3 separate regions of the Homo sapiens genome follow, and regions 1 and 3 are each reported to be linked to region 2. Evidence: microRNA targets listed by miRTarBase, many of them from high-throughput screens and not tested one by one. Region 2 holds a microRNA gene; each other region holds the end of a gene's coding sequence.

Evidence for each region. The annotated mature microRNA hsa-miR-7152-5p reads UUUCCUGUCCUCCAACCAGACC and lies in region 2 at 2,800-2,821, opposite strand. An mRNA with a match to its seed (bases 2 to 7 or 8) in the 3' UTR can be bound and repressed. Matches are read on the target gene's strand: a 7mer-m8 pairs with bases 2 to 8, a 7mer-A1 pairs with bases 2 to 7 and ends in A, and an 8mer does both.
Region 1: miRTarBase lists TENT5A as a target of hsa-miR-7152-5p. Seed matches in the 3' UTR shown: 8mer at 5,791-5,798 and 7mer-A1 at 3,898-3,904.
Region 3: miRTarBase lists MAGT1 as a target of hsa-miR-7152-5p. Seed matches in the 3' UTR shown: 7mer-m8 at 3,168-3,174.

What each region holds. Positions count from the first base shown.
Region 1 is chr6:81,743,426-81,750,724 of GRCh38, forward strand. TENT5A (terminal nucleotidyltransferase 5A) reads right to left here. Exons shown (of 3, transcript NM_017633.3): 3 at 2,305-7,046. The coding sequence ends at 6,270. Among named protein-coding and RNA genes, the nearest start is that of TENT5A, 5.6 kb to the right of the region's middle.
Region 2 is chr10:71,786,568-71,793,567 of GRCh38, reverse strand. MIR7152 (microRNA 7152) reads right to left here and starts at 2,821; the gene lies at 2,768-2,821. CDH23 (cadherin related 23) reads right to left here. Exons shown (of 70, transcript NM_022124.6): 45 at 4,526-4,628; 46 at 3,155-3,280; 47 at 2,233-2,436; 48 at 1-386. RefSeq lists an enhancer at 2,381-3,280.
Region 3 is chrX:77,822,766-77,830,016 of GRCh38, forward strand. MAGT1 (magnesium transporter 1) reads right to left here. Exons shown (of 10, transcript NM_001367916.1): 10 at 2,982-6,470. The coding sequence ends at 6,455. Among named protein-coding and RNA genes, the nearest start is that of ATRX, 40 kb to the left of the region's middle.

The DNA of each region.
Region 1 (7,299 bases), not on the chromosome of region 2:
CTCCTTTTGTCGACATCATACTACATGTTACAACTAATGAGCTGATATTGAACCATTATTATTTCAATAATGCTTGCTTCAGATTTCCTTAGATTTTACCAAGTGCTCTTTTCTGTTGCCAGACCCCACCAGGATCCCACATTACACTTAAGTCATATGTCTCTTTAGGCTCCTCTTGGCAATGGCAGTTTTCACACTTTCTTTGTTTTAATAATTTAAGGAATACTGGTCCAGTATTTTACAGAATGCCCCACAATTTAGTTTTGGATGATGCTGTTCTCAAGATTTGGCAGGTTTTAGAGTGTTGAGGAAAAAACCACAGAGGTGAAGTGCCATTCTTATCACATCACAACAAGGGCACATACTATCATCATGACTTGTCACTACTTATGTTGGCCTTGATCAGCTGGCTGAGGTAGTGTTTGTTCGGTTTTTGCAATGGTACAGTACTCTTCTTTTTCCCTTTTCCAGATTGTAATCTTTGGACATAAGTCACTATGCACAGCCTACACTTAAGAGGTGGGTAGTTAACCTCCACCTCCTTGAAGGGCCAATATCTACATTGATTATTTGGAATCCTGCACAGTAAATTTCTTTCCCTCCATTTGTTCATTCAATCATTTATTTATATCAGTGTGAATGCATGGATACTTTACTCGTTGTGTTATAATCCATTACTATTTATTTTGTTGCTTAAATTGTTCCAGCTTTGGCTATTGGAGCTCTTTCAGTTAGCTCCTATGTCCCTTTGACATACCCCTGCCACCCTCATCATTATGATTTTTATCTTTTTTTTATGCTTTCTCAAGGCACCACAAGATGCTTCAGGCTTCTCTTATATATTTCCTGCTCCAGACATAGATTCAACTTCTAGTTCCTTTTATTGGAGAATGGCATTAGAAACCAAGATCTGAGTCATGCTAGGTAAAAGCCACTGTCATTTTAAAATCATTTCTCCTCCCTCGGTCCTACGTGATGTATTTGCTATTAGACTGAAGGATACTGTGTTCATATTGTTGATCTCAAACTTGGTCCTTTAAAGAAAATTAGAGTTTAATTTTGGAATTACTTGATTTTAACAAACCTTATTCTACTTTATATTTAAAAACTATGATATTAATTTATTTTTCTTTTTTGGTATATTTTGTTCTTTCTTTTTCTTACTAAAGGAATTAGAAGTTTAGGGAATGAGGTTACTAAGGAAAGGAAGGGTGGATTACTTCTCTCCAGGCTCAGCTAGGAGGGGCAGCCTAGTAATTCAACTAGAAATGGCAGGGTATATCTAAGCCTAGGAGAAGTTTAATATATACTGCTCTTATTCAACCATTGTTTAAAAATAATTATGTGGTGACCACAGACATATGAGGAACTGGCTGTAGAATGAAGAGGCTGCAACAAAGGAAGAAGAAAATGACACACAAATACCATTATCAAACCAAATAACCACCTTGTATTTTTATGATGCACTGTATACGGGAAGGAAGCTGGTTTTCAATGCCAAGAGTTGCTCTTTCACAGACTCGGTGTCAAGCATGCATTCTATTCAAGATCAAGACTTTAAGTGGTTTTTACAACCACATGTATATCCTATAGTAGCCTGGGCTTACCAAATTCTCATACTACTAGCATTGAGACCATCTCCAAAATTACACTAAGAAAAATTTTAATTAATACATAAATGTATGCCCCCTAGCAATTTGAATAGGTGAGGTTACATTAAATGCTAGACAAAAGGGTGATTTCCTTGCACCCAACACACACACACACACACACACACACACACACACACACAGAACATACTAGATCTTTTGATTGCTCTTCCTTCTCTATACTTCCTCTTTCAATTCCTGGCCACCAATTCCTCTCACCCCAACGTAAAAACTCTGAATAACACTATAGAGCCTCGAACAGAATCTATATAACCACTGATGAAATCACAGCCCTAAGGCTACTCAGGAAGACCAAGGCTCACGCAGAGCTACTAGAGCCCTACAGCCTACTAGAGCCATGAGTCTCTACTGATATCGGAAAACAGTTCTGACTTCTGGTCACTTAACACTGCTAAATTGATACCCAGACAAAAAAATTGTTGGCATCTATTAGCTAGATGCTTTTGGAGCTAACTGAGCCAGTCAGAGATGGGCTGACTGACAGCTGGATGTTTTCATTTATTGTGCTTCAATCAGAAAGTGGCTGAAGGCTACTCTTCTCTATGTACCGCTCTGCCTTTTCTAAAGGACGTGGGTTGGGATTCAAAGGACATGGTCTTTAGTCAATACAGACATTGTAGACAGCAAACACAAATCAATAGAAAAAAATAACTTTTTTATTTACAAAAAAATCCAAATATTGGATGCTGTAAACAAAATTCACAATCTGTTCCCTCTAGCACTGATTCAAACATGTCAGTTTTTTAGTCCATTTTCCATCAACTCCTTTTCTGCCTGTGACGCAGCCTATAGTCAAAATATTCCAAAAGAGTGACCCAAGGTGCAGCTTGCTGCAACAGAACACCTCAAAGCAGGCATGATTGTAGAGAGGTTGGAGGGAGAGACAGCCAGCAGGCAGAGCCTCCTCCGTTCTGCAAGGCTTTGCAGCAAGTCTCGTTAACTTGACATCTTCCAACTTTGTACTTTACCATTTGCTTTGTTAGAAAGCCATTATTTTAACAAAATATAACATAGAGATTCTTTCTTAGCACTGAAAATGCTATGCTAAAAGAAATTTTAAAGAAAGATTATATTCAAATAGATGCTATATATGAAATTACTTTTTTTGGCTTTTTGGTTTCACCTAACACACTTCATCTTCAACAACAACAAAAAAGCTTATTTTTGAACTGACAGCTTTCAACATAATACATTTCATTTACAAAATAGTTCACAATATTTATTTAACAAGCGTTGCATTGAAAACAACTTTATGCACAGTGAAGCAACCAACAATAAGCAAACAGAAAGGGGTGGTAAAAACAGTACGTTCACTTTTCATTTCCTTCCTTGGTTTGGATTACACATATTCTTCCATCCTTGCATTTTTGGAGCTACATTATTAGTCCATCCAATACCAAAGTGAGCAGATACTTGATCCCATTTCTGGAAAGGAAATGTCCATCTTGGTGTAGGAGTTCTTGAGGCAGCTGGATTTACTGCAAATTAAGTAAACCTTTAAAAACGGCATTGTCACAGGCTATGTGTTCTCTGACATGCCAGGCTGGACAGGTGAGAAGAGCCTCCAAAAGACAAAACTTCTTCCTGGTTTAAAGAAACAGCACACTAGGCCAGATAAACACAAAAGGAAACAAATCACAGGCGCTAATAGGGAGTCGGGAGCTGTTCTTTTCTCTGACCTATACACATGGCTCTCTCTCACCAGACATTCAAATTTTTAGGCCGCACATCCACAAAGAGAGACATATATTTCACTGTGTGTTCAACTACATATGCACAAGACTATAGTACACACAAAATAGAAATAAATTATATAAGTCTTAAAGTAAATGCTAGAAGTTGTCTTGAGTACAGCCTGTTCTATATGAATAGGTGCCAGGTGCTGGCACTTCCAACTAAGCTACCAACCCTGAAGTAAGCAAGAAAAGAATATAAATATTTAAGAAAATAAATCAAAGTGTATTTCAAATAAGGCTCTTCCAAACAAAAATCTGTGTTATAAATTAACAGCAGGTTATTGTTATGGCAGAGTCAGAGACCTCCAGACTCTTTAAAATAGTAGACGACTCATTTGTCAAGAGTTAGGGTAAGAAAGCAGATCACCAGCTGCTCCTGTGTTCACAAGTGCTCCCCTAGTTTTCTTTCAGAAAACTTTGAAACAACTAAGCAGGCGGAGCTCTGGTTTCTGATAGGTGAGTGCCAGGCTTAATCTGCAAACTGAACAATGTTTCCTGGGAAGTTGCAATTAATTTTTCAAACCCAGGGCTTAAGTGAGGGAGACTGAGCCAAGATGGTAGTAGGAGGAGTTCCTTAGAAAACTGAGTGGCAGTGCAGCGGCTGTTGCAGCTCTGACAGAATTCACAAGGAAGCTGCTACAGCAAACCCATCAGGTTCCCATTAAGGCTTCAAAGAAAGATGCACAAAAGGTAGTCCAGACGGATTAACCTGGATTAACCTAGCACTAAGCATCTGAGGATCCCTAGATAAACAAACAAACAAATTATACTGCCAACAGGAGGATATTTTTTTCTCCCGTGGTCTCTCTTTAACTGATGATGAAAATCTTCTAATTGGGTCTTCGAGGAATTATCATAGCAAGCAGTCATCCACTAAGGTTGTGGAGATTATGTGGTTGTTTCACAACACAAAGGGAAGGTTCTTATGTGTTAGTTTTGTTTTGTTTTTAACAAATGCATTTTCAGAGACCAGTATCTAGAGGAACTACTGGCTAGGAGAAAGGGTGGTTTTAGGATTAGCTGTTATTGAACTGAAATAGTAATGCCAGTTCATTTCACAAAGGTATAACTGGTATTTTTGTAAGAAAGAAAATAAAGTTGGATTTGATTTAATGGAAAGCGATTTAAAGTACAGTACTAAATATTTAAATGCAGTGTGACAACCAGATCAAAGATGTTTCATATTGACATGATTTATAAAATGTTATATATAATATATATCTCATATATAAATTTTAAGCAATTGTGCAAATATTCTGTAAAAAGGGTCATTTCACATTACTAAATTCTAGTGGTCCAGAAATGCAGAATGCATTCATTAAAATTCATTTAAACATTAGCAAGTAGTGTTTAGATCACCGGAAATCCTTTTTAGCAGTCAGGGATTTAAGTAGCCTATTACTGATCCATGATCCACTAGATTAAACATCATAGAGGAATGCAATTTTTTTTTTAATAAATGGGTTCCAACTGTCAAAATGGCAGTTCAATATAAAAAAGAGTGCTCTGCCAAACAAATATTCTCCCATTTGTGGAATTTTATGGCTCACCAAAGAAAAAAAAAAAAAGAAAAAAAAATCCCACTAAAACAGTATAATTTCTGCTCTTCCTATGAAATATATTACTTGGTTCCCTCCTTCATTTAATTTTTTTAGATGTGGATTTAATTCATCATTGCAATATGCCCACGTCTCATGTTATCCTGTTGAAAACATAAAAACACACAGTATTTAAACATTTCCTATTTGAGACATTATTCTAGATCATAGTCAATCTACTGTGTATATATACATATAAAATGTATATATAAAATGTATATATACACACACACATATAATTTATACACACATACACATGTACCTATGATAATATCAGATCAACAAATGTTAACTTTATACAAGTATTTGCAAGAAAAAATAGGGCATTTTCTCCACCATTCACAAGCTTATGTTATTTTCTTCTTGAGGCAGTCCCTGATAAAATAAAATAATCATTAAACCATAAAATAATTTTGCCACTTCAAATTTTCAGAAGGCAACAGGCACTTTGATGTATATTGGTGTGTAACAAATATAATCTCTCTTCATATAGTCTACTATATCTCTTCTAATTGGGTATTTTTATCTGTTAAATCTTTGGTCCTTGAGCACACTTTCTTTGTTACAGCTGTTTTTGCTTGCATTTTTACATTTTAAAAATGTGATCTATGCACGCAGCTGGAATTAATGGATTGTGTCATCATAAGTTCTGCTGATTGTTACGAGAACTGCACCAACCTACTACTGTTCATTTGGAGCAAGCCGTTTGTTAGCAAAACAAGATCATTCCACAGAAAGCACTTGCTACAAGCCTCAGACAGTAATCCCAACGTTGGAGTTCCCCTTTTTCCTGTATTGTTACTATTAATATCTGAACTCCTAAACTGATTCACAAGTTGGAGTGAGACCTTTTTTCCTCCGTATTTTCCCTTTTATGAATTCCATCTTAAAAGAAACTTTCCACTTTTTTTTTTCCTATGGCAAAGCTATGGGAGCAGATACAGCAAACCCATATTGTCATCACACATTTCTTCTCTTGTATCAGGAGAACCTGGTTGCTTCTAATGACAGGTCTCTCTTTTTTTGCAGGATAGAATCCAATTGGGTAGGAGAATAAGAGAAGGGAAAAGGATCCTTTCGAGATCATGCTCCCACATCTATTAAAAGATACATAAGCTTTGCCAAACTTAAAACCAGGAGCATATCATCATTGCACAAAACACATCCCTAATAAGGGCTGGATCACTCTTTTTTTTTTCTTTTTTTTTTTTTTCTCTCCTGTCTTGTCTGAAATGGCTTCCCCACAGGACATTTTTAAATGATTCTTAATTGCAGGGTAGCCAAGTGGAGTAGGTCTGTTGCTGGCACGTGAATACTGGCTGAACCTGTGCAATGTAGTAATTGCTAAAGTTGGCATCTGCTACATAGGGGGCTGGCTGGTAATAGCAAGTGACATTAGCCACATTAGGAATGACATTTTGGTCAGCTAACACCCGGATAGCCAGCATGGTGATAAGGTTTAAAGTCTGTCTTCTTTCATGTCCCATCAGGCACACTGTGCTCTCATTTACCACTCCATGAAGGGTCATGAGATACTCATACTTGCGGTCTTCCAATCCCACAAAGTGGTTCTGCAAATAGGACTCCAGTTTTCTCTGCTGCTCTCCAATGTCTGAGAAGTCGATGAAAAACCTGGAACACATATACCTTTGAAGGGTCTTGATTTCATCAGAGGCGGGCCTAAAGCCCCTCACCAAGAGGTTGCAGTACTTAAGCAGGCCTCCCCCTCGGATTTCCTCTGGGTTCCTGGTGGCAATGATCTTGTTACAAAGGTGATCAAAGGCTTCCTGGAAATCGCCATAGACGCTCTCCCCGATTATTGTGGGGTGAAATGTCTCAGTCATTGGGTTCTCTGAACATTCATAAAAGAGCAGAAGAGAGTCTAATTTGATTTGAAAAGAATCTACACTGAATTCAAACTGCCTCCGGAGGGAATCCACAAATTTCAGTTCCACATTTTTGCCACTGTTGTTTGACAGGGATATAAGACTCCATCGGTCAGAGTCATTGCACACTTTAACCATTTTCTGCACATAAGCTTCCTACAATTTAAAAGATAAAACAAAATGAGCAAACCTAGAAAATAATAAATCAATAAATAAATACATCCTCTTCACAGCTGAGAATTATTTTGCTCTTTCCCTTTTGTTTTGTCAAGTTTCAGCCAAACACTACCTACAGGCTTAAACGGTCTTCTGAAAATAGAAAAAAAATACTTTTAACGAGTAGTTTTACTGTCTGGGAAAGGGACTAGAGGTAATAGTTTGAGGCTTTTGGCAGACGTAGCACAGTAGT
Region 2 (7,000 bases):
GCCGACAATGTGGTACTCTAGCTTTGGGTTGAGGTCGTGGTCAATGGCCGTGATATTGGCAATGACAGTGCCTGGCTCAGCCGACTCCAGCACGCTCACTGTCTGGATGGGGTTGAGGAACTCGGGGCGGGAGTCATTGATGTCATCGATCAGAATGGTGACAATGGCTGTGCCCGAGAGAGGAACGGTGCCCCGGTCGGTGGCCACCACCGTTAGCCTGTAGGACTCCTGCTCCTCTCTGTCGATGGTGGCATTACCAACACGGATGACCCCGGTGACCAGATGAATGAGGAAGCGGTCCTGAGCCCCAGCTTCTATTCGGTAGACCAGCTCCCCATTGAGGCCACTGTCCTCATCTGTGGCTGTGACTTGAAGGACTGAGAATCCTGTTGGAGAGGGAAAAGGGAGTAGCTGCGCACAGTGGCCTCTTCCAGAAAGATCTACCAAGACACATTTGTTGGTGATCTTCTCAAGTCCCCTTCTCATGACAGCCTTGACAGCATTTTCTTTTATACCTTTTTCATACTTGCAATTTTATAGGAAAATGGCATGTTATTTTATTTTATATTCTTTGATTAAACAATATTTTATAATGTAATAATTAGTTGTATCTTCTGCAAATGGTCTGCTTTTGTCTTTTGTCCATTTTTCTGTCAATTATACAAGTCACATAATTATGACAACTTGAGACATATATATATATATATATATATATTTTTTTTTTTTTTTTTTTTTTTTTTTTTTTTTAGATGGAGTCTTACACTGTCACCTAGGCTGGAGTGCAGTGGTGTGATCTCGGCTTACTGCAACCTCTGCTTCCCAGGTTCAAGTGATTCTTATGCAGCAGACTCCTGAGTAGCTGGGATTACAGGCACCCACTACCATGCCTGGCTAATTTTTTGTATTTTTAGTAGAGAAAGGGTTTCTCCATGTCAGGCTGGTCTGGAACTCCAGACCTCAAGTGATCCACCTGCCTCAGCCTCCCAAATTGCTGGGATTACAGGCGTGAGCCACCTCGCCTGGACCAAGACAAATATACTTTTTGGTTTGTTGTTTGCCTTTCAATATTGGCTATAATTATTTGATGTAACAAGGTTTAAATTAGCATGCATAGAAATTTAATATTTTTCCTCTTAAGTTCTTTTCTTTTATGCTTAGAACCTTCTTACCCAGAAATGAGTTATTCACCTAAGTTTTCTTCATTTATTGTTTAGTGTTTTCTACTTTTTAATATTTTCTTTTGGTTTTTATTTTGGTGTCTGACATGGGGGAGAATCTACACTAAATATTACATTATTATTATATTAGATTACATACAGATTATAATAATTGGATGTAATTGATTAGATTAAATAGGTTTTTGCACACTGAATAAGTAGCTTCCCCATTGGCCTCATTGCTTCCTTTATCACATCATATTTTATTCTTTAATTTACCAGTATCTGTTTCTGGGCTACTTTGTCCTGGAGTCTTGTGCCCATATTGCATGGCCTTAAATACTGTAGCTTTATAATATGTTATAAAATCTGGTAAGCCAAATCTGGCTTATTATACTTATGTTTTTCAAAATTTTCTTATTCTTCCAGAAGTTATATTTGATTTTGATGGGAATCATGTTGATCCTATTTTGACTTTAAAATAGTCAGTCTTTCCATCTGGGAATTCAAATGGAGAATACTTAGGAATCTTGTAGGCCAGGCGTGGTGGCTCACACCTGTAATCCCAGCACTTTGGGAGGCTGAGGCGAGTGGATCACCTGAGGTCAGGAGTTTGCGACCAGCCTGGCCAACAGGGTGAAACCCCGTCTCTACTAAAAATACAAAAATTAGCTGGGTGTGGTGGTGGGCGCCTGTAATCCCAGCTACTCGGGAGGCTGAGGCAGGAGAATCACTTGAACCTGGGAGGCTGAGGTTGCAGTGAGCCGAGATTGTGCCATTGCACTCCAGCCTGGGCAACAAGAGCAAAACTCCGTCTTAAAAAAAAAAAAAGAAAAGAAAAGAAAAAGAAAGAAAGGAAAAAAGAATCTTGTTTTGCAGGCAAGATACAGAAGCTCAGAGGAGGGAAGCAGGGGCCCAGGTCTCCTGACTCCCTCTCCAGTGTGTTCTACACTCACCCTGCTGCCCATCTTTCTCCCCACTGGAGGCAAACTCCGTGTCCAACCTGAGGCTCCAGTCCCCTGTGACCACCAACCGGCCCCTGGTTGTGGGGTGCTGGGGCCTGTCCCCTGCTTACCAGGCGGGCAGTTCTCTAGCAGATGGACAGTGAGGGTGGCAGGGCTAAAGGTGGGCCGGTTGTCATTGTCATCCAGGATGGTGATGAGCAGGTGGGCCGTGCTGTTGAGCAGCCCGATGTCCTCAGCCAGCAGCAGCAGCTCCAGGATGGGTGGCGAGAATGCCTCCCGGTCAATGATGACACCTGACCTCACGGTCACCACACCTGGCACCCGGTGCCGCCAGCCAGGGAAACACACAGAAAAGGGGTGCGGTGGGAAGACAGGGCAAGAACCAACAGGGAGAGAGCAGAGAAAGACAGGGGCACCATGGGACAGAGATGAAAGAGGAGCAGAGGCAGTAACAAAATGACTTTCTCCCCCACAGGCTCAACCACCCGTGCTGAGGGAGGGCCCCATGCATTTCCTGTGGTTGTCCCCTCTGCAGGTGCCCTCTGCTGTCTTCAAGACTCTTGCCTGGGAAGAGTGACCCAGGGCACAGGGTTGACCGTCTCTGTTGACAGATGTGCTTTCCTGTCGGCACCTGTCACCAAAGCGGCCTCCTGTCCAGGACCAGACGGATGTGGCATGGTCTGGTTGGAGGACAGGAAAGTCGCTCTGGCTACTTCTGCTGGACTAGGGGCCTGAGCCTCTGGCCTGCGCATGGGGAGATGACGGGAGTGGGCTGGGGGGCTCCCGGCCCAGGCTGAGAGTTCGTGCACCAACAGAGGTCCTGTGTATCGTCTCCAAGCCTCTTCCCACGTCCCCCTGCCAGGCCACTGGGTGATATAACCCAGCTGCAAGATGGGGACTCTGGGCTGTGAAAAATGGGGTCTCCACGGACAGCCTGGGTCCAGCACTGAGAAGGGAGGCCCTCAATCCAGCAGTGTGGCCATCCCCACCCCAGAATCAGGCTGGGAGTGCTGGGTGGCACAGAGGCCTCACCGGTGCTGCTGTTGATGTCAAAGAGGCCACTCTGGGCACCCAGCAGCTGGTAGGTCACCACGGCGTAGATGTCTTGGTCTGCATCCAGGGCCAGGATGGGCCCATTGAGCACCGTGAGAGGGGTGCCTGGGCCAGAAGGAGAGGGGTCACCACAAGACCAACCCAGCCCCCTGCCCTCCCACCTCCCCTGCCCTGTCCCGGTGAGCCATGGCTGACGATGGATGAGAGGGGAGGGAGGTGAGGTGGACAGGGTGGGGAGGCCCTGGGGGCGGGCCTGCGGCAGCCTTGGCAGACTGAACGCAGATGCCTGGGGAGCGGCCTCAAAGCCCTGCTGGGGAGAAAACATGAGAGTGGTGAGCAAGGCCCCGGCTGCCCAGAGCCACATCTGCCTTCCCAGCAGCCTTTGAGGCTGGCCGCTCCTCGGGAGGGTCTGGGGCTCCCTGACATCCCCTCCCCATGTGTGGGTCTCGCCTGTCAACACATGTGTTCACACAATGCTCTGCCTTTGGGGGCCTGGCCATACATGACTAGAAAAACCCACTCATGTGTGCATCAAGTTCTGTGTTCACATGGCCACAGGCACTTGTCCAGGAGCACGCACAGGCCTGGGATTCCCTGGTTGTGCACTCGTGTGCCTCTGCAGGTGGGCATGTCTGCACACGAGCGCATCAGTGGGCACCCATGTACCTATATGTGTCTGTGCACATGTGTAACCCCACGCACATGCCTTGGTATGGACACACACGGGCACATGTGTGAGCATACACACAGACAGGTTTAAGAATGAAATTCACCTAGGGGGGATGCCCAGCCAGAGATGAGGAACAGGGGCTGGGGAGACTGGAGGAGTGCAGGTGCCACCTCAGGGGACATCACAGAGGAGATTCTGTCCCTCTGGAGGGAGGTGAGCCTGGTCAGTGCATGTGTGTGGGGAGAGGGCTACACTGGCCTACCCAGGACCCCCTGACCTCCCACTTCTAGTTATAGATGCTCCCCAGGGCTTCCAGAAGGCCCTGGGATGCCCTGCACTCCTGGGGTGGAGGGAGCAGTGAGGGGTGGACCCACTCCCCTCCGGGGTAGTCCTCACACCTTACATGCCCTTCTTGAGGGATGGTGGGGCAGCTCTCAGACCACCCTGGGGAACAATGACCACGACTGTCTCTTCCAACCAGACCTGTGGCTTCTTTGTGCTCATAGGAGGCCCGGGAGCCCCAGCCCACCATCTCCCGGAGCTGCACCCATCCTTCCCCTCCCGCACCCACTGGGGTCTAGGTTCAGCTATGCCGTTAGGCATAAGGGAGGTCCTCAGGCATCCCAGGCCCCAGTGGTGCCTGGCAACAGCAGGAGCTCCCGGGTGGGCCCAGCACCTACCAGCGGGAGAGTTTTCCATCACCTCTGCCTGGTAGGTGCTTTTAGTGAAGAGGGGGTGGTTGTCATTCTCATCAGAAAGGAAGATCAGAAGCAAGTCATAATCCTGCAAGGGGCAGAATGGGGCACGTTGTAGGCCATGCTCAGCAAAGTGCCCCCACCTAGGTGGGAGGAGGGTTGGGAGGTTGGGGATTGGGGCACAGAGGTGGATGATCAGAAAAGCCCACACCAACATGAACTCACATTTTTCAAAAGAAGACATACAAGAGGGCAACAAACATGAAAAAATGTGGCCGGGTGCAGTGGCTCATGCCTGTAATCCCAGCACTTTGGGAGGCCAAGACGGGCAGATCACGAGGTCAGGAGATCGAGACCATCCTGGCTAACATGGTGAAACCCCGTCTCTACTAAAAGCACAAAAAATTAGCTGGGCGTGGTGGCACGCACCTGTAGTCCCAGCTACTTGGGAGGCTGAGGCAGGAGAATGGCATGAACCCAGGAGGCGGAGCTTGCAGCGAGCGGATATCACGCCACTGCACTCCAGCCCAGATGACAGAGCAAGACTCCATCTCAAAAAAAAAGAAAAAAAGAAAAAATGCTTAGTGTTGCTAATCATCAGAGAAATGCAATAAGCCACAGTGAGGTACCCTCTCACACCAGTCAGAACGGCTATTATTAAAAAGTCAAAAAACAACATGCTGGGCATGGTGGCTCACGCCTGTAATCCCAGCACTTTGGGAGTCTGAGGTGGGCGGATCACTTAAGGTCAGGAGTTCGAGACCAGCCTGGCCAATATGGTGAAACCCTGTCTCTACTTAAAATACAAAAAAATTAGCTGGGCATGATGGCTTACACCTGTAATCCCAGCTACTTGGGAAGTTGAGACAGGAGAATCGCTTGAACCCAGGAGGCAGAGATTGCAGTGAGCCGAGATTGTGCCACTGTACTCCAGCCTGGGCAAGAGAGCAAGACACCATCTCAAGAAAAAAACAACAGACACTGGTGAGGATGCAGAGAAAAGGGAATGCTCATACACTGCTGGTGGGAATGTAAATTCCTTCAGCCACTGTGGCAAGCAATATGGAGATTTCTCAAAGAACTAAAGACAGAATTACCCTTCAATCCCACAATACCCCTCTACTGGGTACCTGCCCAAAGGGAAATACATCGTTATATCAAAAAGATACTTACACTCACATGTTTATCGCCACACTATTCACAATAGCAAAGATATGGAATCAATGTAAGTGTCCATCCACAGAGGACTGACTAAAGAAAATGTGGTATATAGACCATGGAATACTACTCAACCGTAAGAAAGAGTGAAGTCGTGTCTTTTGCAGCAACATGGATGGAACTGAAGGCCATTATCCTAAGTGAAATGACTCAGAAATAGAAAGTCAAATATTGCATATTTTCACTTATAAGTGGGAGCTAAATAATGTGTAACCATGGATATACAGAATGGAATAAGAGTCATTGGAGACTCAGAAGGGTGGGAGGATGGGAAGAGGGTGAGGGTTGAAAAATTATTTATTAGGTACAATGTTCACTGTTCAGTGAGTGGCAGTGAGTTCACAGTTCAGTGAACATTGGACATAATAGGTAGTTTTGGGTACACCTGATGGGTACACTAAAAGCCCAGTCTTCACCACTACACAATATGGACATGTTAAGAAACCTGTGCTTGTACTCCCTGAATCTAAAAAAAAAAAAAAAAAAAAAATCTGAAAAGCGCCCACACCAGGGTTCAAAGACCTGGGTTGAAGACCCTATTCTGGGTGATCTTGGGTGCCTCATTTCCCCTGTCTGGGTCTCAGTTTTCTAGTCTGGCAAATAGGGATTTAACTCCTTCACGGAGGTGTGGCAAATGGGATTGAATCCTGTTCCATCTCACTTCAGGCGGGAAGATGAGTCCTGTTTCTCGACCTTCAAGGCCTTCCTGTTGCCCTGGCTGGAGTTCATTCAAACTCTGCCAGTGCCTCACTTCACACTCGCAAACCTCAGAACCTCCAGTACCCCTGTGCACTGTCACCACCTCAGAGACAAGGGAACCAAGGTGCAGAGATGGGGAGTGCCCATTCAGAGCCAAGTGGTGAGTTAGCAGCAGAGTGGGGCTTAGCCCCTAAGCCCACCGAGTCCTGCCACTCAATGCTGCTTTTACCCGGGGCCCTCCTGAAGCCAGGCAAGGGAGAGGAAAAATGAGAGCAGAAAAGAGAAAAAGTGGGGGCAAAAATGAGGGAGTAGAAGCTGGGCATGGTGGCTCACACCTGTAATCCCAGCACTTTGGGAGGCTGAGGCAGGTGGATTGCTTGAGGTCAGGAGTTTGAGACAAGCCTCGCCAACATGGTGAAATCCCATCTCTGCTAAAAATACAAAAATTAGCCGGGCAAGGTGGCGTGTGCATGTAATCCTAGCTACTCGGGAGACTGAGGCACAAGAATCGCTTGAACCTGGGAGGTGGAGGTTGCAGTGAGC
Region 3 (7,251 bases), not on the chromosome of region 2:
TTCGGCTATTGATACTTGTGTATGCTTCATGAAGTTCCTGTGCTGTGTTTTTCAGCGCCATCAGGTCATTTATGTTCTTCTCTAAACATAAATACAACATGAAGCTCCTTTAGCTCGGAGGAGTTTGTCTTTACCTGCCTTCTGAAGCCTACTTCTGTCAATTCATCAAACTCATTCTCCGTCCAGTTTTGTTCCCTTGCTGGTGAGGAGTTGTGACCCTTTGGAAGAGAAGAGGTGTTCTGGTTTTTGGAGTTTTCAGCCTTTTTGCGCTGGTTTCTCTCCATCTTCGTGGATTTATCTACCTTCGGTCTTTGATGTTGGTGATGTTGATACTATTCCTGTTTGTTAGTTTTCCTTCTAACAGTCAGGCCCCTCTGCTGCAGGTCTGCTGGAGTCTGCTGGAGGTCCACTCCACACCCTGCTTGCCTGGGTATCACTAGAGGAGGCTCAGTTGGAAATGCAGGAATCACCTGCCTTCTGCGTTGATCTCGCTGGGAGCTGCAGACCAGAGCTGTTCCTATTTGGCCATCTTGCCAGCTACCTCCCTCTGTGATGACTGAGTGTCAACTTGATTGGATTGAAGGATGCAAAGTATTGTTCCTGAGTGTGTCTGTGAGGGTGTTGCCAAAGGAGATTTAACATTTGAGTCAGTGGACTGGGAGAGGTAGACCCACCCTCAATCTGGGTGGGCACCATTTAATCTGCTCTCAGCATGGCTAGGATAAATGCAGGCGGAACGTGGAAAGACTTCACTTGCTGAGTCTTCTGGCCTTCATCTTTCTCCCGTGCTGGATGCTTCCTGCCCTGGAACATTGGACTCCAAGTTCTTCAGCTTTTAGACTCTTGGACTTACACCAGTGGTTTGCCAGGAGCTGTTGGGCCTTCGGCCACACCGAAGGCTGCACTGTTGGCTTCCCCACTTTTGAGGTTTTGGGACATGGGCTGACTTCCTTGCTCCTCCTCAGCTTGCAGATGGTCTATTGTGGGACTTCGCCTTTTGATTGTGTGAGTCAATATTCCTTAATAAACTCCCCCACTCTTTTTTTTTTTTTTTTTTTTGAGACAGAGTCTTGCTCTGCTGCCCAGGCTGGAGTGCAATGGCTCAATCTTGGCTCACTGCAATCTCCGCCCCCCGGGTTCAAGCGATTTCTCCTGCCTCAGCCTCTCCTGTAATCCTGGGATTACAGGTGCATGCCACCATGCCCGGCTAATTTTTGTATTTTTAGTAGAGATAGGGTTTCATGTTGGCCAGGCTGGTGTTGAACTCCTGGCCTCAAAGTGATCCACCCACTTGGGCCTCCCAAAGTGCTGGGATTATAGGTGTGAGCCACTGTGCCCAGCCTAAACTCCCCTTCATATACACATCTATCCTATTAGTTCTGTTCCTCTACAGAACCCTAATATACAGTCTCCCCACCTAAATTCTACATTCACAGATTAAAGGTAGATTAAACTCCTTCCTCTTTAGGAAGTCTGCTCAGCTCCTCTAGGGAAATCTCTCTCTCATTAGGACTCTTCTCCAGGCAATCTAGATGTCAGGAAGCAAACCTAGTGAGCACAAACTACAGCAGGGGTGTCCAATCTTCTGGCTTCCCTGGGCCACATTGGAAGAATTGTCTTGGGCTACCCATTAAGTACCCTAACACTAATGATAGCTGATGGGCTAAAAAATAATCAGAAAAAAACTCATAATGTTTTAATTAAGTTTATGAATTTGTGTTGGGCTGCATTCAAAGCCATCCTGGGTTGCATGCGGCCCATGGGCTGAGGGTTGGATAAGCTTGAACTACAGTATGGTTTCCAAGCGTCAAGGGAGTAATTTGCATCTACACTTGAAATGTAATCCATAGGGAATTTGCAGCTAAAGAGGAAACCTGTAGGTACTTCCCTGGAATAAACTTCAGTAAATTGCTTCACTTTTCTATGGCAGGTTTCTTCAGCAGTCAAAATGAAGGGGCTGATTTAAATGGTATCTAAGATCCTTTTGGCTTTGACTTTCTGTTGTAACAGCATACTATTACAGTTGCTGATCTCATTCTTGCTCAGAATTGGGCAGAACCCATGTAAATCAAGACCTCGAGGTTGGGCGCGGTGGCTCACTCCTGTAATCCCAGCATTTTGGGAGGGCGAGACAGGTGGATCACCCGAGGTCAGGAGTTTGAGACCAGGCTTGTCAACATGGTGAAACCGTCTCTACTAAAAATACAAGAATTAGCCAGGCGTGGGGTGGTGTTTGCCTGTAGTCCAAGCTACTCGGGAGGCTGAGACATGAGAATCGCTTGAACTCGGGAGGTGGAGGCTGCAGGGAGCCGAGATTGCCCCACTGCACTTCAGCCTGCGTGACAATGCGAGACTGCGTCTCAAAAAAAAAAAAATCTTATTAACATATGGGTTCCGATATGGTTTGGATCTTTGTCCCCACCCAAATCTCACGTTCAATTGTAATTCCCAATGATGGAGGTGGGGCCTGGTGGGAAATGACTGGATGGGGGCAGGTTTCTCATGAATGGTTTAGTACCATCCCTTTGGTACTGTCCTTGTGATAGTGAGTTATCGCGAGATCTGGTCATTGAAAAGTGTCTGCCAACTCCCCTCACCTTTTTGCTCCTGCTCTGGCCATGTGATGTGCTTGCTCCCCCTTTGCCTTCCACCATGATTGTAAGTTTCCTGAAGCTTCCCCAAAAGCTGAGCAGATGCCAGCATCATGTTTCCTGTACACCCTGCAGAACTGTGAGCCAATTAAACCTCTTTTCTTTATAAAGTACCCAATCTCAGGTATTTCTTTAGAGCAATGCAATAACGGTCTAATAGAGTTCCAAGTGCATCCTTTCCAAAAAATATTTCAATGCATATTAAGCAATTTGTAGTTATAATGGCCTCCACCAGCATTTCCTAGCTTCTTCAGAAATCTGACTGCAGAATATCCTCCATTTCAATTGATTTTAATTCAGCACCAAATCTGGATATAAAAATATTATCTATTCAAATTTAAGTGCATCTTTAATATTTTGCATAATAGAACAATAGAGCAGGAAGGACTACTAAGGTAATTTAGCCTAATACACTTTACTTAGTATAAAGAAATATGTTCAGAGAGGTTCAGGTGACACCTATGGTCATATAGTTAGACAGAAACAGAGCAAGGGCTAAAAGCCAGATCTCTTTACTTCCTGTGCAGTGTTTCTACTCCATGTTTGCAAAAGAGCTGCTGTCTAGTTTCATATAACTTATAATCTGCCAGGGTAACTTTCAAATCAAGTTTTTATTATCAAAAGGAAATTACCTAGTCAAGGAATGTTCACTGTCTGGGACGAAAGGTAGATCAATTGTTGCAAACAGTCATTTATCTACTCATCTTGGTTGTTTTGACTCACCTAATGGGTAACAACATTAAGAATGAGGGACCATGTATAGATTCCTAGAATAATATATCCCAATCCAGAAATACTTAAAGAAACTGTCCCATCAAACTGTCCTTAGGACAATATGAAATTTAAATTAATTTAATTATAACTTCAAAATGTAAAATCCTAATTTTACAATTCTAGTTTAGTGTTTAAAACTCACTCCTCTTTAGATGGTAATCAAAAACTCAGAATTTAGATTGTAAAAGTTTATTGATATGGTCAAAAAGCAAACAGCCAGACATTTGGTTATCTTTGCCACTACAATGTGTCATTCTGAACTGTATCTTAAAAATGCATAACAAATGATATTTAAACCATTACCAGAAAAGTAAATGAAGAGTCTACTTAAGGCACTTCATATGAAAGCTAATTCAAAATTTTCACAAAAGTCACACTATTTTATAAGTGTAGTAAATTACCTTCTACACATTTTAGCCAGAATGCTGCCTTTCTCCTTACAGAAGAATGTGCTCTTAAAGGGAGAAAAAGCAAATACAAAAAATTGTCATTCTGTCAATGTTCATGACAAATTATCTGGAACTATACAGATTACATGGCAGTAGTATTCCCGTGGTCAATCTGTACAAATCAGGGCATCTTCATACAAGTCTCATAAGAACCACAGCATAGATTTGGCCTGAGACAAGTACAAGAATAGCAGGTAAGGAATTCAGAATCTCACAATTTACAAGTGAGTAATTAACAAAAACTGGCTGCTCCATTAAAAAGTAAAAGGTCAACCATATCCCCTCATCCATGAAATCTAGTAACGAAAAACAAAAAACCCACATAAAATATTTCTTCTGAGGCTACTATATCCATCTCTTTCTGCAAACCACATGGCAGGGTTATTAGAAGGTAAATGGCAGGTGGCAGTCATAGTATCTTTTTAATGTAATACTTGTAAGATTTCCTTAAAATTATTTTTTCACAATTACAATTATCCTATTTCCACAATAGTGGCATTTCAGGTTACTCTTCATAACTATGGGGGAGGTTATAGTTAGATATAATGATAACCATGAAAACATTCTTCACAGAAATTTGGTTAGCACATATGGTTATTTCTACTGACAGAAACCAAAAGACAAAATAAAAAAAATCCCTTCAAATTGGTACTTTGTTTCTCCACCTAAAGGAAGAGAATAAAGACTAAAATAACAGCAAAACATAGAACAGCTTTCGAGAAACGCTTAATTTCTATATACAGGCATCAGCTCAATATTTTATGATTTTTCTTTCCCATTCTAAGGGAGTCCTTTTCTTTCTTACTTTTTTTTTTTTTTTTGAGATGGAGTCTCGCTCTGTTGCCAGGCTGGAGTGCAGTGGTGTGATCTTGGCTCACTGAAACCTCCATCTCCTGAGTTCAAGTGATTCTCGTGCCTCAGCCTCCTGTGTAGCTGGGATTACAGGCTCCTGCCACCACACCCAGCTAATTTTTATATTTTTAGTAGAGACGGGGTTTCACCATGTTGGCCAGGATGGTCTCGAACTCCTGACCTCGTGATCTGCCTGCCTTGGCCTCCCAAAGTGCTGAGATTACAGGCGTAAGTCACTGCGCCTGGCCAGGGAGTCCTTTTCTAACTGAGCCTATTTTTCTCTTAGGTACAAATGGAATAAGTGACAAACTCTAATTTGTAGAAACATTTTAGGCCATGTATAAGTTACACTGATTTTAGCACTAAGCTATATTTTTATCACAGATGGGTCACCTTAAAAGAAAACTAAGGAGATGGAATGAATCTGAAATCTTTCTAAATACAAGGTAGTTAACACCATACTCAAGCAGAAATTATAATCCTGTATTTAGAGATACTTTTTTTTGAGACAGAGTCTCACTCTATCACTCAGGCTGGAGCGCAGTAGCGTGATCTCGGCTCACTGCAATCTCCGCCTCCCAGGTATTAAGCAAGTCTCGTGCCTCAGCCTCCCAAGTAGCTAGGATTATAGGCATGAGCCACCAAGCCCAGCTAATTTTCATATTTTTAGTAGAGACGGGGTTTTGCCTTGTTGGCCAGGCTGGTCTCTAACTCCTGGCCTCAAGCAATCCACCTGCCTCGGACTCCCAATAGATGTCTTTTCATGTTCACAGCTATCGAGAAGCATAGACATTGCTGGTGTGGTAGCTCACACATGTCATCCTCGCACTTTGGGAGACTGAGGCGGGCGGATCACTTGAGCCCAGGAGTTCAAGACCAGCCTGGACAACTTGGCGAAACCCTGTCTCTACTAAAAACACAAAAATTAGCCTGGCATGGCGGTGCACACCTGTAAATCCCAGCTACTTGGGAAGCTGTGACAGGAGAATCGCTTAAACCTGGGAGGCAGAGTTTGCAGTCAGCCGAGCTCACGCCACTGCACTCCAGCCTGTGTGACACAGCGAGACCGTCTCAAAAAAACAACAAAACAAAAACAATCATAGACAGCACTGTATTTCAGTAGGAAATATGCAAGGAGGAGGAGAAACAACTGTCTTGCTGAGGGCTAGACGTGTGCTCTGAAGAATGGTGTTCCATTTTCAGAAGACCACATGACACACATAATTTCTCTACTCAAAAGGAAAGATGCGTAAAGTATACACATCCACACAAAGATGAAGAAGCTAAGAATGAATTCCTAATGTAGTTATCTGTAACAGGCATATGTGGGAACACCTGGTCAGGACTTACTTTCCCCATCTTTGGATAAGGCAATATAAAATCAGATGACCAAGTTAACTAAAGTAGTTTTGAGCTTTGTTCTAACTAAAACAAAGTAGTAGTTTTACAATTTTTATAATATACTTAATTGTACTAAATTAAATGTTCCATAAAGTTCACTGGGAAGAGAAGGTTAAGAGGATAATTATTTTCAAATACCTCAGATTTTGACAGAGGATTGCTTGTTAAGGCACTACACATCTTCTTTGGTTAAATGATTAACTATTTAAATCACTTGAAAAAAAGAGGTAATACAAAATATACAAGTTGCATTCTTCTTTTCAAACACACACGATTTTCGTTTTTCAATTTCCAGTACTCCAGTGTCTATATATCTCTGGGACCTTTTTAACTCATCAGAAAGCTGAAACAAAAATATATTCCAATCTATTAGTCTCTGAAAGAAAAGTAGGATTTACTTTTAATCAATAAGCAGTATGTTGGTTTTAACAGATAAAAGAGCATTTTGGTACGTACATGATAATCTTTGGGTATCAATAACAAAAAGTGAGAAACACTGAGAGACCCGTTAGTCTTATGACAAAAGGAAATAGAATAACCTCAAGTTAAAATATCTCCTGAATAGAGACACTAATTAATAATTTTATTTTTTCATTTTTTTAGAGATGGGGTCTCACTGTGTTGCCCAGTCTGGTCTGGGACTCCCACGCTCAAGTGATCATTCTGTCTTAGCCTTCTGAGTAGCTGGGACTACAGGCACATGACACTGCTATTGAATCAACTCTGCTGATCAAATAATTAACAGAAGTCCCAGCAAAATTACCTTCACATCTCAATTAGTATTCTGTAGAGGATAAATTATTATAATTATTATTTTTGAGATGGGGTCTCACTCTATTACTCAGACTGGAGTGCAGTGGCACTCTATTTCTTAAAAAAAAGTAGAGGCGAGAAGAAGTTTTTAACATTAAAAAAAATCATTTCTTCTTCAAAAGGAAGTATAATATGCAGACAAGGAGCTATGTGAATAGATAATGGCATAAAATGTTCTAATCATTATGTATTTCTAGAATACATATGAGATTTCTAGAATAAATTAGGTATGGCAAAATAAATCTAAAAGATGTTCCTGAGAAATCACATACTAATATTGTCCATTATACTATAATTAATTTTTATATGGG